Linked DNA regions of Homo sapiens: region 2 is linked to region 1. A link means that fine-mapping ties the variant in region 1 to the expression of a gene that starts in the linked region. Tissue or cell type: whole blood. Region 1 holds a variant in brackets; the other region holds the start of a gene. All regions are shown on one strand. Distances are from middle to middle.

The links. PIP is the estimated chance that this variant, and not a neighbour inherited with it, causes the effect.
Region 2: H6PD starts here. The variant in region 1 is fine-mapped to the expression of H6PD in whole blood (TOPMed, PIP 0.99).

Annotation. Positions count from the first base shown.
Region 1 is chr1:9,254,204-9,261,777 of GRCh38, forward strand. The region is part of intron 3 of H6PD (hexose-6-phosphate dehydrogenase/glucose 1-dehydrogenase); the gene reads left to right. Among named protein-coding and RNA genes, the nearest start is that of H6PD, 23 kb to the left of the region's middle. The variant C/T (reference allele first, on the strand shown) is at 4,027.
Region 2 is chr1:9,231,058-9,238,631 of GRCh38, forward strand. H6PD (hexose-6-phosphate dehydrogenase/glucose 1-dehydrogenase) reads left to right here and starts at 3,717. Exons shown (of 5, transcript NM_004285.4): 1 at 3,717-4,009. RefSeq lists a silencer at 3,570-4,129.

The sequences.
Region 1 (7,574 bases):
AATTATCCAGGCATGGTAGTTTGTGCCTGTAATCCCAGCTACTCGGGAGGCTGAGGCAGGAGAATTGCTTGAACCCAGGAGGCGAAGGTTACAGTGAGCCAAGATCGCGCCACTGCACTGCAGCCTGGGTAATGGGGAGACTCCATCTCCAATAAAATAAAACAAAATAAGATAAGATAAAATAAGATAAAATAAACTGGAGCAGCCTGGCTCCAGAGACCACACTCCAGATCACAGCTCTGTACCACCATTCAAGGATCCAGCCAGTCACCAAGTAGTTTGTATTCATCTGCTATAATAACTTCTTTGCAGTTCACTGTGACTTCGTTCCCTCCTACCTTTGTTACTTCCTTTGATGGCAGCAAAGGCTGCCTCACTGATTTCACTACCACCAGTCCCATCCTGTTCATCTTGGAGGTCGCAGACAGCTTCATCTTCCTGAAGTACCTCTTTCGTGCTTCTGCTTCCCTGTTCTAAAACCTTTTTTAAAAAGTTTTATTGAGCTGTAACTCACAAATCCTACTACACTTTACCCAGTTAAGGTGGACAGGCCAGTGAGCTTTCGTGTATTCACAGAGTTGTGTGTCAGTACCACAATCAATTTTAGGACATGTTCATCACGGCAAAGGAAGCCCTGTACCCCTTCGTTGTCATCCCACAATTTCCCCCTCTCCCCAGCTCCTGGCAACCACAGAAATGCATTCTCTCTGCGGGGTTGCCTGTTCTGGATATTTTGTACATATAGGATCATACGGTGTGTGGTTTCCATCAGTTAGCATCCTGAGTTCAGAGTTCACCCATGTTCTAGCATGTACCAGCACTTCATTTCTTTTTACTGCTGAATAATATCTTATTGTATAGATATACCATAATTTATCCAGTCACCAGTTAGTGGACATTTGGGTTGCCTCTACTTTTTGGCTGTTATATATAATGCTGCAATGAGCATTCATGTACAAGCTTTTGTGTGGACCTGCATTTTTATTTCTCTTGAGTATAAACCCAGGAGTGGGGTTGCTGGAGGATCATGACTCTGTTTAACTGTTTGAGGCCAATAACTCTTATTTATTTATTTATTTTTTATTTTTTATTTTTGGAGACAGGGTCTTTATCTGTCGCCCTGGCTGGAGTGCAGTGGTGCAATCATAGCCCACTGCAGCCTCGACCTCCTAGGCTTAAGTGATCCTCCCACCTCAGCCTCCCAAGTAGCTGGGACCACAGGTGTATTTCACCATGCCCAGCTAATTTTTGTATTTTTTGTAGAGATGGGGTTTTGCCATGTTGCCTAGGCTGGTCTTGAACTCCTGGACTCAGGAGATCTGCCCACCTCAGCCTCCCAAAGTGCTGGGATTACAAGCATAAGCCACTGTGCCAGGCCTTAGGTCCCTTTCAAATGCAAGATATTCCTGATTTTCCTGTTCTATTATTGCAGGGGAAGGGAAGAATTGTCTTTTTACATTCTCCCGAAAAGGAGAATTGGAAGATTTGGTCACCCTGGGCCCACACTCCTGTGAGGCACCACCTGAATGCACCTGAGGTACTTAACTGTACCTCTGAGGGACACCAGCCTTACTCCATCCTTTTCGCTTTTGCTGGCCCCGGTAGGCATTGGAATCTCTGAGCTTTGCCCTAGACCCCTCCTTCCAGAAGCTCAGCCGGCTTCTTCATTGTGCTCTGTTTCTAAAGGCCAGTGGTGCCCACGCCACTCAACTTCACACCGTTCTGTTGTAGGGTTGAAGAGTGGGTAATTAAAAGGGAAATGTTTTGGTGGTAAGAATTGCAGGCTCTGGGTCGAACTGCCTGGGTTTGAAGCTATTTTTACCTCTTTACCAGCTGTGTGTGACCTTGGGTAAGTTATCCAACCTCTCTGAACTTCAGGTTCCTTATATTTTAAAATAGGGGAAATAGAGGGGCCTCCTTATATGTTGTTATTCTGAGGATAAATGGACTGATCCACAAACATTGCTGGCATCAGTTTCTCTTTTTCTGGATGTCTTCTCAACAATAGCACAAGAACTTGAAGGCCACAACACTACAGAGCTGGGGGATCTCAGCCATTGTTTTCCCAGTGGAGACCACTCTTGGCATTTTGGTTGGCACAGTTGGGCTGGACTTCCTGCTCATTTCAAGGTTTAGTATCCCTGGACAGAGCTGCACCCTCTAGCTCCTGGTTGTTATGGCCGGGGACAGAGTGCCTTCCTACGAGTGGCTGCCGGCTTCATTTCTTGCCCCCCAACACTGGTGCTGCTGTCGGGAATGGCATATCGGGCTGGATTCAGGGCAGGTTGTTCCCCCAGCCATGACCTGGACATGCTTGCTGTCTGGTTGGCCCGAGAGTGCACACCACCAACCTGGTCAGGGCAGGTGCCCAGGACTGGCGCCATGGACCCAGAGTGGCTGCTGGGAGGGGAGCATGCTGGGCTCAGCAGGCCTGAACTTAGGATCTGCTGCTTTTTGTCTGTTGGAATTAAATGTTAACTAGATACTAGGTAAATTTAAAGTTTACAGAATGCATGGAAGAGATACAGAACTATGGTATAAGAAACGGGGATGCACCTACCACCCGTTTTTAAAAAAGAATTTGATTCTCCTGCGTGTCCCTCCCCACGTTCTGACCTATTTCCTCATCTTACACTTCCAAATTGTGGATAGATTATTCCCTCGCTTCTCTTTCTGTTTCCATGCACGCCTGGTTCCCTAAACAACCTGTTGTTTAATTTTGAACAAGAGTCATCCTGTATGTGTCCGAGCATGGATCTTTTTGTCTCTGTGTCCAGCATTTGGGAGAATCGCCTCAGCTCTGTCTTCTGCTAGCTGACTCTTTACAGCTGTTTCTCATCTGTAAGGCCCATCTACTGAATTTCTAGTTTCCAATTATATTTTTCATTTATTGAAGTTCTGTTTATTTTGGTCACTTTATATCCTGTTTTCTTTTTCTTTCTTTTTTTTTTTTGAGACAGGGTCTCATGCGGTGTTGTCCAGATGGGGTGCAGTGGCAGGTTCACAGCTCACTGCAGCCTTGACCTCCTGGGCTCAAGCAATCCTCCCACCCCAGCCTCCCAAATAGTTGGGACCACACTTGGCTAATTTTTTTTTTTTAATTTTTTGTAGAAACAGGGTCTCACTTTGTTGCCCAAGATGGTCTTGAACTCCTGGACTCTGGGCTCAAGTGATCCTCCTGCCTTGGCCTCCCAAAGTGCTGGGATTACCAGCATGAGCCAGTCCGCCTGGCCTATATCCTATTTTCAAGTTAATTTTTATTTTATCAAAGTAATCATGTTGCTTTCTCACCACATTACGTCTTGGAGGTTTATCCGTGACAATGTGTGGATCTTCATTTTCTCTGCTGTCCACTGTCTGAACGTAGTGCTGTGTTAGGGGCTAGGGATGCAGCAGAGGGCAGATGCCACTCAGATGGAGCCTCCCTCGTAGTGGGGAAGAAAGAGAAACAGGCCTGAATTACAGTCAGCTGGGCTAGAAGAAGCCAGGGCCCCTCAGAAGGGGTAGGCCAAAGCTCCTAGAAGCTGAGCCCTTAAGGATGACTGGGAGTTTGCTGGGTGAACAAACAAATCCCAGGTTAGGGGTCCTACGTGCAGAAGCCTTTGAGAAATGATGGCTCCTCGTGTCTGAGGCCAGGCTCTCTCTGTAGGTGAGGGTGTGAGGAGACTTGGGCATTGGAACTCTCCTGCGAGGTGGTATGCGTTGGAACCCTGATCTCTGGGACTGTCCTGTATATTCGAGTCACCGATAATCAGTGCTCACCGGGGTTCAGCCTCAGAGGAGGGAGTGGAGCGGAGCTCGTGGTTAAGCAGTGTCTGCTTCTGCCCCCGCGCCTGGTCACCTGCCTCCTTCCTCACTCGCGGAGCAGGAGTGATCACGGTGCCTGCGTGCAGGGTCTTTGTGAGTATGGGGAGGAGCGGCGCGGGCCGGGGCTGCTGTCAGCGTTGGTGTTGTTATGCTGGTGTTGTTACGTTGCTATTGTTACACCGGTGTTGTTACGCCAGTGTTGTTATGTTGCTGTTGTTA[C/T]GCTGGTGGTGTTATGTTGGTGTTGTTACATCAGTGTTGTTACGTTGCTGTTGTTACACCCGTGTTGTTACGTTGTTATACCGATATTGTTACGCCAGGGTTGTTACATTGTTGTTACACCAGTGTTATGTTGTTGTTACACTGGTGTTGTCATTCTTATCCCAGTGTTGTTATGTTGTTATGTCAGTGTTAATGTTGCTGTTGTTATGCTGTTGTTACACCAGTGTTATGTTGTTGTTACACCGGTGTTGTACACCATTGTTATGCCGGTGTTGTGTTGTTACACTGGTGTTATGTTGCTGTTACACCAGTGTTGTTACATTGCTGTTAAGCTGGTGTTATATTGTTATGCTGGTGTTGTAACATTGCTGTTAACACCGTTGTTATGTTGCTGTTATGCCGGTGTTGTGCCAGTGTTATGCCGGTGTTGTTTTGTTGTTGTTACGCTGGTGTTACATTGTTACACCAGTGTTATGTTGTTGTTACACCGGTGTTGTTATGTTGCTGCTGTTACATCGGTGTTGTTACATTGTTATGCTGGTGTTGTTATGTTGTTGTTACACCAGTGTTGTTACATTGCTGTTGTTACTCTGGTGTTGTTATGTTGTTGTTATGCTGGTGTTGTGTTACTGTTGTTATGTTGTTGTTACGCTGGTGTTGTTATGTTGCTGTTGTTACATCGGTGTTATGTTGTTATGCCAGTGTTACATTGCTGTTACGATGATGGTGTTATGTTGCTGTTGTTACACTGATGTTTTTTGTTTGTTTGTTTTTGTTTTTGAGGCAGAGTCTCGCTCTGTCGCCCAGGCTGGAGTGTAGTGGTGCGATCTCAGCTCACTGCAAGCTCTGCCTCCTGGGTTCACGCCATTCTCCTGCCTCAGCCTCCCAAGTAGCTGGGACTACAGGCGCCCGCCACCACGCCCAGCTAATTTTTTGTATTTTTTAGTAGAGACGGGGTTTCACCATGTTAGGATGGTCTCGATCTCCTGACCTCGTGATCCGCCTGCCTTGGCCTCCCAAAGTGCTGGGATTATGGGCGTGAGCCACCATGCCTGGCCACACCGGTGTTGTTATGTTGCTGTTGTTACACCAGTGTTGTTATGTTGTTGTTACACTGGTGTTGTATGGTTACACCATTGTTGCGCCAGTGTTGTGTTGTTGTTACACTGGTGGTGGTGTTACAACAACTTGTTGTTACACCAGTGTTATGTTGCTGTTAAGCCAGTGTTGTTATGTTGTTATGCTGGTGTTGTTATATTGTTGTTACGCCAGTGTTGTTACGTTGCTGTTATGCTGGTGTTATGTGGTTGTTACACTAGTATTATGTTGCTGTTATTCCAGTGTTGTTACATTGTCACACCAGTGTTGTTACGTTGCTGTTACAATGGTGTTATATTGCTGTTATTAAGCTGGTGTTACGTTGTTGTTATGCTGGTGTTGTTACATTGCTCTTAACACCGGTGTTATGTTGCTGTTGTTACGCCAGTGTTGTTATATTGTTGTTACACCGGTGTTATGTTGCTGTTGTTACACTGGTGTTACATTGTTGTTACACCAGTGTTGTTATGTTGCTGTTGTTACGGTGGTGTTATGTTGTTATGCTGGTGTTGTTTTGTTGTTGTTATGCTGGTGTTACGCCGGTGTTATGTTGTTGTTACACCAGTGTTATGTTGCTGTTGTTACGCCAGTGTTGTTACGTTGTTGTTATGCTGGTGGTGTTATGTTGCTGTTGTTACTCTGCTGTTATGTTGTTGTTACACTGGTATTATGTTACTGTTGTTATGTTGTTATGCTGGTGTTGTTGCACTGCTGTTATGCTGGTGTTATGTTGTTACTCCGGTGTTGTTACGTTGCTGTTGTTACGCCGGTGTCGTTATGTTGTTACGCCAGTGTTGTTACGTTGCTGTTAGCTGGTGTTATATTGCTGTTGTTAAGCTGGTGTTATGTTGTTGTTATGCTGGTGTTGTTACATTGCTGTTGACACTGGTGTTGCTGTTGTTACGCCAGTGTTATGTCGTTACACCAGTGCTGTTATGTTGTCGTTACGCCAGTGCTGTTATGTTGCTGTTGTTACGCCAGTGTTGTTATATTGTTGTTACACCAGTGTTATGTTGCTGTTGTTACACTGGTGTTGCATTGTTGTTACACCAGTGTTGTTATGTTGCTGTTGTTACGGTGGTGTTATGTTGTTATGCTGGTGTTGTTTTGTTGTTGTTATGCTGGTGTTATGTTGTTACACCAGTGTTATGTTGCTGTTACGCCAGTGTTGTTACGTTGCTGTTGTTACACCAGTGTTGTTACGTTGCTGCTGTTATGTTGCCGTTGTTACTCTGCTGTTGTTATGTTGTTGTTACACTGGTGTTGCACTGCTGTTATTCTGATGTTGTTATGTTACGCCAATGTTGTTATGTTGCTGTTGTTACATTGGTGTTGTTATGTTGTTGTTACGCTGGTGTTGCTGCACTGCTGTTATGCTGGTGTTGTGTTGTTAGGCTGGTGTTGTTATGTTGCTGTTGTTATGCTGGTCGTGCTGCTCCATGTTCTCCAGGTGTTCTTCCCTTTTATCGTCACAGTTACCCCGTACACCTGACAACTGGACATCTGCGCCTGGGGGTCTTCAGCCTAAACACACCTAAACCCTCCACCAAACCCCTCTGCTTCCGCCTCCCCGTGTCTGTGAGCGCCTCCACTGCCCATCCCTCTGCTCAGGCCCCACTTCCAGGGCTCATGTTGGGGGCCTCCATTTTGCTCACACCCACCCCATCTGTCAGCAGGTCCAGTCAATCCTGACTCTGGGGTGCCTCTCCCTCCCCTCCAGCTCCTGTACTGCCCATTAGTCCAGGCCCTGTCGTCTCTGCTGGGCAGCTGTGCAGCCTCTTCCTTGCCTTCCCTGCATCTGCACCCATTCTCCCCCCAAGACCAGGGGTCGATCCCCAATATAGGTCAGGTCTCGTCTTCTCCTGCCTCAGATCCTCCAGTGTCCCCCCTACAACTGATCTTAGAAAAAAGTCCAGCCTCTTCGCCTTATCCTGCAAGACCCCTGATCTCCTCTCCAGCCTCACCGCTGTCCCCACTCTTTGCTCACCTCCATCTGGCCCCCAGCACACCAAGTTCCTTCCTGCCTCGGGGCTTTGGCACCTGAGGGTCCCTGCAGCTGAGATGCTTTCTCCCTGGCTTTTTGCGAGGCTGGCTCTTCAGGTCTCGGAGGGGCCTTTTCATTACCCTCTGTCACAACTGCTCTGTAATTTTGTTTACTTCCTTTTCTCTTCTTCCCACTTTCCCTCCCTCCCACTCCCCTGCACATTGCCTGGCACAGGTGTGCGCCCGGTAGTGAGGTGGCACTTGTTAGTCTCATCCAAGGGCAGGATGCAGGAACAAAAGTCAAGTAACTTACCCAAGATCACATGCTAGTAAGTGGCAGTCATACTCTGGGGTGCTGCAGCCCCCGCCATGGTGCCATAGCCCCCACAGTGCCGAGCCTCCTACTGGCAGTGGCCAGGCAGGGCGGGGCGAGGGGCTGGCCAGTATCTACAGAGGCAATCTGGCCT
Region 2 (7,574 bases), 23 kb before region 1:
GAATTATGCCTTGACCAGAAATGGCTCCTCCAGATAGGAATTTATGCTGACCCATTATTTTAGCCTGGTAAGAACTAAGTTCTGACCTCCAGAACTGTAAGATAATAAATTTGGGTTGTTTAAGCCACTAAATGGTGGTATATTGTTATGGCAACAATGGAAACCATTACATAACTACTTTATGTGGACTTTAGGAAGCTAATCTTAAAAAATAAAAAAGGTCTGTTACAATGGCTCATGCCTGTGATCCTTGCACTTTGGGAGGCCGAGGTGGGAGGATACCTTGAGCCTAGGAGTTAGAGGCCAGTCTGGGCAACATAGTGAGGGCTTAGCTCTACAAAAAAAGAAAGAAAGAAAGAAAAAAATTAGCCAGGCATAGTGGCGTACACCTGTAGTTTCAGGTACTCAGGAGGCTAAGGCGGGGGGATCACTTGAGCCAGGAGGTTGAAGCTGCAGTGAGCTATGATCGTGCCACTGCACTCCAGCCTGGGTGACAGAGTGAGATTCCGTCTCAAAAAATAAAATAAAAATTTTTAAAAAGAGGCTCCTTATGTCTGAGGATGAAAAGATCTACTCGTGGCTGAAAAATCTCTACCTGTTTCCCTCCCTCCCCACCTCCTGCGAGAAGCAAGACGAAGCCAGCAGAGCTGCCTTAGGGAGTGACACCTGAAAATAGAAACTGCAATGGGATTTTATTTCTAACTCCACAGGCATCTCTGTGAGTCATTCATCTCTCTGGGTCTCACTTTCCTTGTCTGTAAAGCAGGCTGAATTCACCCTGACTTCTGCCTACACCACAGTTAAAGGGCTAGGAAGAAAAATCCCCAAAAATCCACTTCATAAATAGAGCCCCAGGGCGCTCCTTATAAAGCACGAGATAAACCACAGACAGAATTCTGGTCACAGGACACCCCCTGGACCACCCATGGGGCATCATTCCTTTCTCCCGGCTTCCTTCATTCTCCCGGCTTCCTTCACGGGGTTCTGGGCACACCTGGTCCCTTGTAGCTGCGGTCAGCACGGAAACAAGAAAAGCTTCAGACAGGCAAAGGTGCAGAAACCAATGCCAGGGCCCACAGGGACAAAGTTTTCGATTTTTGTGTTTTGGGTGGCAGTACTCTCACACCAGGATGACTGGGTCTTAGCACGACCTAATCGTCTTCATGATGGAAAGAAAGCAAAGCAACTGATTGCCCAGAGAAAACTGGAAGGTACAGAGGCAGGATGAGACTGAGGTGAAGGTAAGGTGAGGAAAGACAGGCGGAGAAATGAAACATCTCAGGGTGGTGTGGGAGTGGACATAGGGTTGGGAGGGCATTGTGACCCCCTAGGCTAATTCCCCCCTCAGACCCCACCCCAACGTTACCTAATCAGGTGGACGTTTTCTTAGTAAGCAGGTTACAACTGACTTGGTTTGGGGCTTTGTTTTTTTTTCTTTTTTTTTTTTTTTGAGACCGAGTTTCACTCTTGTTGCCCAGGCTGGAATGCAGTGGCGCGATCTCAGCTCCCCGCAACCTCCACCTCCCAGGTTCAAGCTATTCTCCTGCCTCAGCCTCCCGAGTAGCTGGGATTACAGGCATGCGCCACCACACCCAGCTAATTTTGTAGTTTTAGTAGAGACATGGTTTCACCATATTGGTCAGGCTGGTCTCGAACTCCCGACCTCAGGTGATCCACCCGCCTCGGCCTCTCAAAGTGCTGGGATTACAGGCGTGAGCCACCGTGCCTGGCTTTTTTTTTTTTTTTTTTTGACACAGTTTCACCCTGTTGCCCTGGCTGGAGTGCAATGGCGCGATCTTGGCTCACTGCAACCTCTGCATCCTGGATTCAAGCGATTCTCGTGCCTCAGCCATCTGAGTAGCTAGGACTACAGGCACGCCACCACGCTTGGCTTTTTTTTTTTTTTTTGTATTATTAGTAGAGATGGGATTTCATCATGTTGGCCAGGCTGGTCTCGAACTACTGACCTCAGGGGATCCACCTGCCTCGGCCTCCCAAAGTGCTGTGATTACAGGCATGAGCCACTACGCCTGACCTGGGGCTATTTATAAGAAGCCCTCAAGGTAGCAGATCACCCTCTGATGGCCACATGGAGATCTGGGAAACGAACCCCCGGTCATGCCTCTGGACACCTGCCCACTTCTATCTGTGCCTTCCTGGGCCCTGGTTTTCAGAGCTATGTGGGTGCCTGACACACTCAGGGCCACAGAACATGGGAAGGGCTCTAGGCCAAGAGTCCCGGCATCATTCGAGTCTGCTCTGGCCCGCTCCTGCCCTAAGCCCTCCTGCTCACTTCCAGCTGTGGAGGTAGCCCAGAGAGTGCCTGGCTCCCTGGCTCCCCCCTCTGCCAGGCCCACTCAGTGTGACCTAAATCCTTGCCGAGGCTTGGCAGCCCTCTGCGGGCGCCCGGATGGCCTCTGGCCTTGGTGACGGTGAGGCCCAGCTCCCCTCAGTTCCCAGCCTTCCCGGAACCCCTTGCCTAACATCCTGTGTGGTAATCATGCCTGTTGGCCCCATTCAGTCCTGCCGGCCACTGCCAAGTTGCCACTGCTAGTTCCAGACGCTCCCACCTCTAATGGAACCATCGGGAAATAAAAAGCTGCAGCACAGTTTCTCTCTCAGGTCAGAATCTCCTCCCAGCACTTTGGGAGGCCAACGTGGGAGAATCACTTGGGCCCAGGAGTTCGAGACCAGCCTGGGCAACAAAGTGAGACCCCGTCTCTACAAAAAGTTGAAAAATTAGTCAGGAGTGGTGGCGAACATCTGTGATCCCAGTTACTTGGGAGGCTGAGGCGGGAGGATCACTTGAGCCTGGGAGGCGGAGGCTGCAGTGAGCTGTGATAGCGCCACTGCACTCCAGCATGGGTGACAGAGCGAGACCCTGTCTCAAAAAAAAAAAAAAAAAAAAAAAAGAAAAAAAGAAAAGAAAAGAAAGAAAAAAGAAAAAGTGGGGAGCAGGTTGGGGAGCATGGTGAGGGCCACCTACTGCCTGATAATGGTGGGGGACAGGAAGGGGACTGAGTGCTCTGAGAGGCAGCTGATCCCGTTTTCTCACTTAAATACCTCTCACCCTACAGAGAAGCCCTGATTCCATTTGCTGTCTTTCTTAGCAATGTCTTAGCAAAAGTCTTCTATTTGCCACACGGGTCCAAGCTTCCGCTTACTAAGCACCCAAGTGCCAGACAACCCCGGAGGCAGGTACTCCCATTGTCCCCACTGTACAGATGAAGAAACTGAACTCAGGGTCACACAAGTGATAAGGGGTGGCAGAGATCTGAAGCTGTGCGCGGAGGCGTGGCCAGCGTGTGCGCTCCGACTTCTAAATCCCTACTCTGGATATTGAAGACGGGAAAGACCGAGCCGCTCATTCTACAGATGGGGAAAAGCGAGGCCTGAGGAGTCCCAGAGCGGGTGCCAGATCGTAGGGAGCAGCCAGCACCCCGGGTCCCCTCCACGACACAACCACGTCCCTCGGCCACTTCTGGGTCCCGCGCGCGTCTCGGACGCGGCAGGACAGCTCTAGGACGCACGGCCACCAGGGGGCCGAAGGGAAGGGCGGGGGCGGAGGCTCGGAGCTGACCCACCGCCTCGCCCCGGAAGCTCCGAGGCCCCGCCCCGGCGGCCGCCAGCGGAGGGCGTGGCCTCGCCGGCGCCCCCGCCCCGCCCCCGCCCCCGCCGCGCGCGCCCCCGCCGCGCGCGCCCCCGGCCCGGGCCCCAGTCTTGCTGAGCGCAAGGCGGTGGAGGCCTGAGGCCTGAGGCCTGGGGCGGGGTGGCGGCCGGGCTGGCCTTGGCCTCGCGCCTTCCCCTGCGGCCGCCGCGGGCTCCGCGGGCGGTATCGGAGTGTCGTGCGGCGCGTGGCCGCGTGACACGCGCACTTGTCGGAGTGACGGGCCCTGCGGAAGAGGAGGTGCGGCCCAGGGCGCAGGGGAGCCCTCGGGAGCGGGCCCGGCCCTCAGCGCCGCCCCGGCCGTGTCCCGGAGGAGCGGCCTGCGCCGCCGCGCGAGAGGAAGTAAGCGCCCCCCGCCGGCCCCGCCGCCGCCCCGGCCCCGGCGCCTCCAACCCGCGCTGCCGCCGGGCCCGAGGCCGCGCCGAGCCCCGGAGCCTGCGCTGCCAGCCCCACGGAGCCTGGGGCTGGCGGCTTTGGAACTGCTCAGGAGGCGGCCAGGCTCCCTCCAGGGTCGCCCCGAGCGGCCGAGCTGTCCTTTCCCTGGGCTTCCCGGAACTGAGTTCCAGGAGAGGGGGAACTCCGAGATTTCCCCCGGGACCTGCTTAATCTTTGGCATTGATTGGCCCTCGGGTTTCACATAGCGTTTCCCGTACCCGGATCTAGTGAACGGTTTTCCAGGGGCAAACCTCTCTGGATCTCTGAAAATCAGCTCACCCAACCTTGAATGCTTAGCCAGAAGTGAGAACTTCTGGAAAGAAGTGTCCTTGCCCACTCCCCCTGCACCCACAACAGGCCCATGGCTCATGAAAGGCAGCAGATGAGGGAAAACTGGTGTCAAATGGGCATATTTTTTATTTTATCTTTTTACTTTTTTATATAAAAGTAAAAAATCTTTTACTTATAAAAGATGGGGTCTTGCTTGGTTGCCCAGGCTGGAGTACAGTGGCACAAACACGGTTCCCTGCAGCCTCCACCTCTTGGGCTCAGGCCATCGTCCTGCCTCAGCCTCCGGGGTAGCTGGGACCACAGGCGCACACCACCACGCCTGGCTAATTTTTAAACCTTTTGTAGAGACAGTGGTCTCACTATGTTGCCCTGGCTGGTCTCGAACTCCTGGGCTCAAGCGATCCTCCTGCTTAAGCCTTACGAAGTGTTGGGATTACAGGTGTGAAGCACCACGCCCAGACAGCGTATTTTAAATTATGCATCATATCCCTTTAATTTTTCATCATTATGATTGGAAGATCATGAAAAGCTGTCTGAGTTTTTCCTTGGCATTTTTCTGTGGTTGATGGTTAGTTGTTGCCCAAGCTGGAGTGCAATGGCGCGATCTCGGCCCACTGCAACCTTCTCCTCCTGGTTCAAGCGATTCTTCCACCTCAGCCTCCTGAGTGGCTGGGATTACAGGCGCGTGCCACCACACCCGGCTAATTTTATGTATTTTTTAGTAGAAACAGGGTTTCACTATGTTATCCAGGCTTGTCTTGAACTGCTGACCTCAGGTGATCCACCACCTCGGCCTCCCAAAGTGCTGGGATTACAGGCATGAACCACCGCGCCCAGCTGGTTAGTTGGTTTTAACAGCAGTTCAAGAAGCTAGCAAGAAGGACTTCATTCGTGAAGCTAATGGTTTAATGATAGAAACTAACATTTCTGGCCGGGCCCAGTGGCTCACGCCTGTAATCCCAACACTTTCGGAGGCCAGGGCGGGCAGGTCACTTGAAGAGTTCAAGACCAGCCTTGCCAACATGGTGAAACCCCGTCTCTACTAAAAATACAAAAATTTGCTGGGCATGGGGGCAGCGGATGCCTGTAATCCCAGCTGCTGGGGAGGCTAAGGCAGGAAAATCGCTTGAACCGCCCTGCCTCCGGTGACGGAGGTTGCAGTGAACCAAGATCGTGCCACTGCACTCCAGCCTGGGTGACAAAGCTAGACTTCTCCTTAAAAAAAAAAAAAAAAAAAAGCAGCTAGGATTTCTTGGGTGCTTACTGTATGCCAGGCATTGTGCTAAGTACCTTACATGCTTCCCATCGATTTGTTTTCCCATTCTGTGGTTGAGGTACAGAGAGGTTAAATAACTTGTCTGAGGGTACATAGTTACTGAGTGGCAGGGATTTGAATCCAGAATATTCTTATGTAACCAGTTCTCCAAAAACTAGCCCTTGAAGGTCTTCCACGTTTCAACAAAGCAACTGAGGCTTATACATGATGTCTTCATGATGTCAGAAGGAAGAACTGTGAAAGGCAAAGCGGACCCGGGAGGCAGAGGCTGGTTACCGCAGTTAGTGTTCGGAACAGCTTGACTTCATGGAGCAGAGAAACAGCCTGTCTGGTTTAAACCACTGTTCAGTATCTACACTGATACAGTGTAAATGTAATACAGTGTTTTACATTTTGCCATTCAGGGATGTAGTCACATTTTACGGGAAGGTTAGCTCTGGGACCAGACTGCCTGTATTCAAATCCTATCACCTCTAGCTGCTTGACCTTTGGTAAGTTATTTGACTTCTCTTTTTTTTTTTTTTTTTTTTTTTTTTGAGATGGAGTCTTGCTCTGTTGCCCAGGGGCGCAATCTCAGCTCACTGCAACGTTCGCCTCCTAGGTTCAAGTGATTCTGCTCCCTCAGCCTCCCAAGTAGCTGGGATTACAGGCACCTGCCACCACGCCTGGCTAATTTTTGTATTGTTAGTAGAGACGGGGTTTCACCGTGTTGGCCAGGCTGGTTTTAAACTCCCGACCTCCAATGATCCTCCTGCCTCAGCCTCCCAAAGTGCTGGGATTATAGGCGTAAGCCACTGCGCCTGGCCATGTTATTTGACTTCTCTTTGCCTTAGTTTCCTCTCTACTCCCTGCTAAGATGGGGATAATCATGTTACCTACCTCATATGGTTGTGGCAAGATTTAAATGGTGTGATGCATGTCACACCGATAGCCTAGCATTTGGCATATAGTTAAATACTCCATAAATAGCTCTTTTATTATTAAAAGTGTTGTTCCAAGTAGTAAGCTGCTGCTGTGTGCTGTGTCACAGTGCTTGAAGTCACCATTAGAGGTATATTCCTTTGTGCCGTATTTCAAATGCAGAAATGACAGTGGTCCTGTGCAAATGGGATTTATTTGTTCATTTAGCAGATATTTATAGAGCGCCTTCTGTATGCCAGGCCTTGTTTTGGATACTGGAGGTACTGCGGAGAACAAAACAAACAAAAGTCCCTGTCCTCATTGGCACGCACACTCTTGGGAAAAGGAATGGCAGACAATAGGCAAAATGAATGTAATTATCATACAGTATATTAGAAAGCGATGTACTGTGGGGAGAAATAAAGCAGGAGAGGAGGATGGGGGTGGGCGGTTTACAATTTTAGAGTGGTCTGAGTAAGCCTCACTGAGAAGATGACATTTTAGCAAAGAAAAATTAGTGAGGGAGTAAACCACGTGGACCTGGTGGGGGACATGGGGGAGTTGGCCAGGCGGAGAGAACAAGTGCAAAGGCCCTGAGGCAGGAGGCTGGGCGGCCAGAGCCTAGACAGGCAGGATGGTAAGAGAAGAGATCAAAGAGGTAATGGGTGGGAGGCCAGAATGTGTAGACTCTGCAGACATCTGCACAGAGGAATGGCATGATCCAGCTGGAGCTATAAAAAGGTCACTCTGACTGCCGTGTTGAGGCTCAGCCATAGAGGGTCCAGGTAGACAGAGGAGGCCAATTAGGAAGTTCCTGTAGTAATCCAGACGGAGATGACGGTGGCTGGCACTGGAGTGGAGTGGTGGAAGGTGGTGAGAAGCAGTTGTATTCTAGATAAATTTTGAAGATAGAAACTACAGGATTTGCTGACAGATACGATGACCTCAAGGTTTCTGGGTCTGAACACCTGGAAAGATAGAGTTGTCATTTACTGATAATGGGGA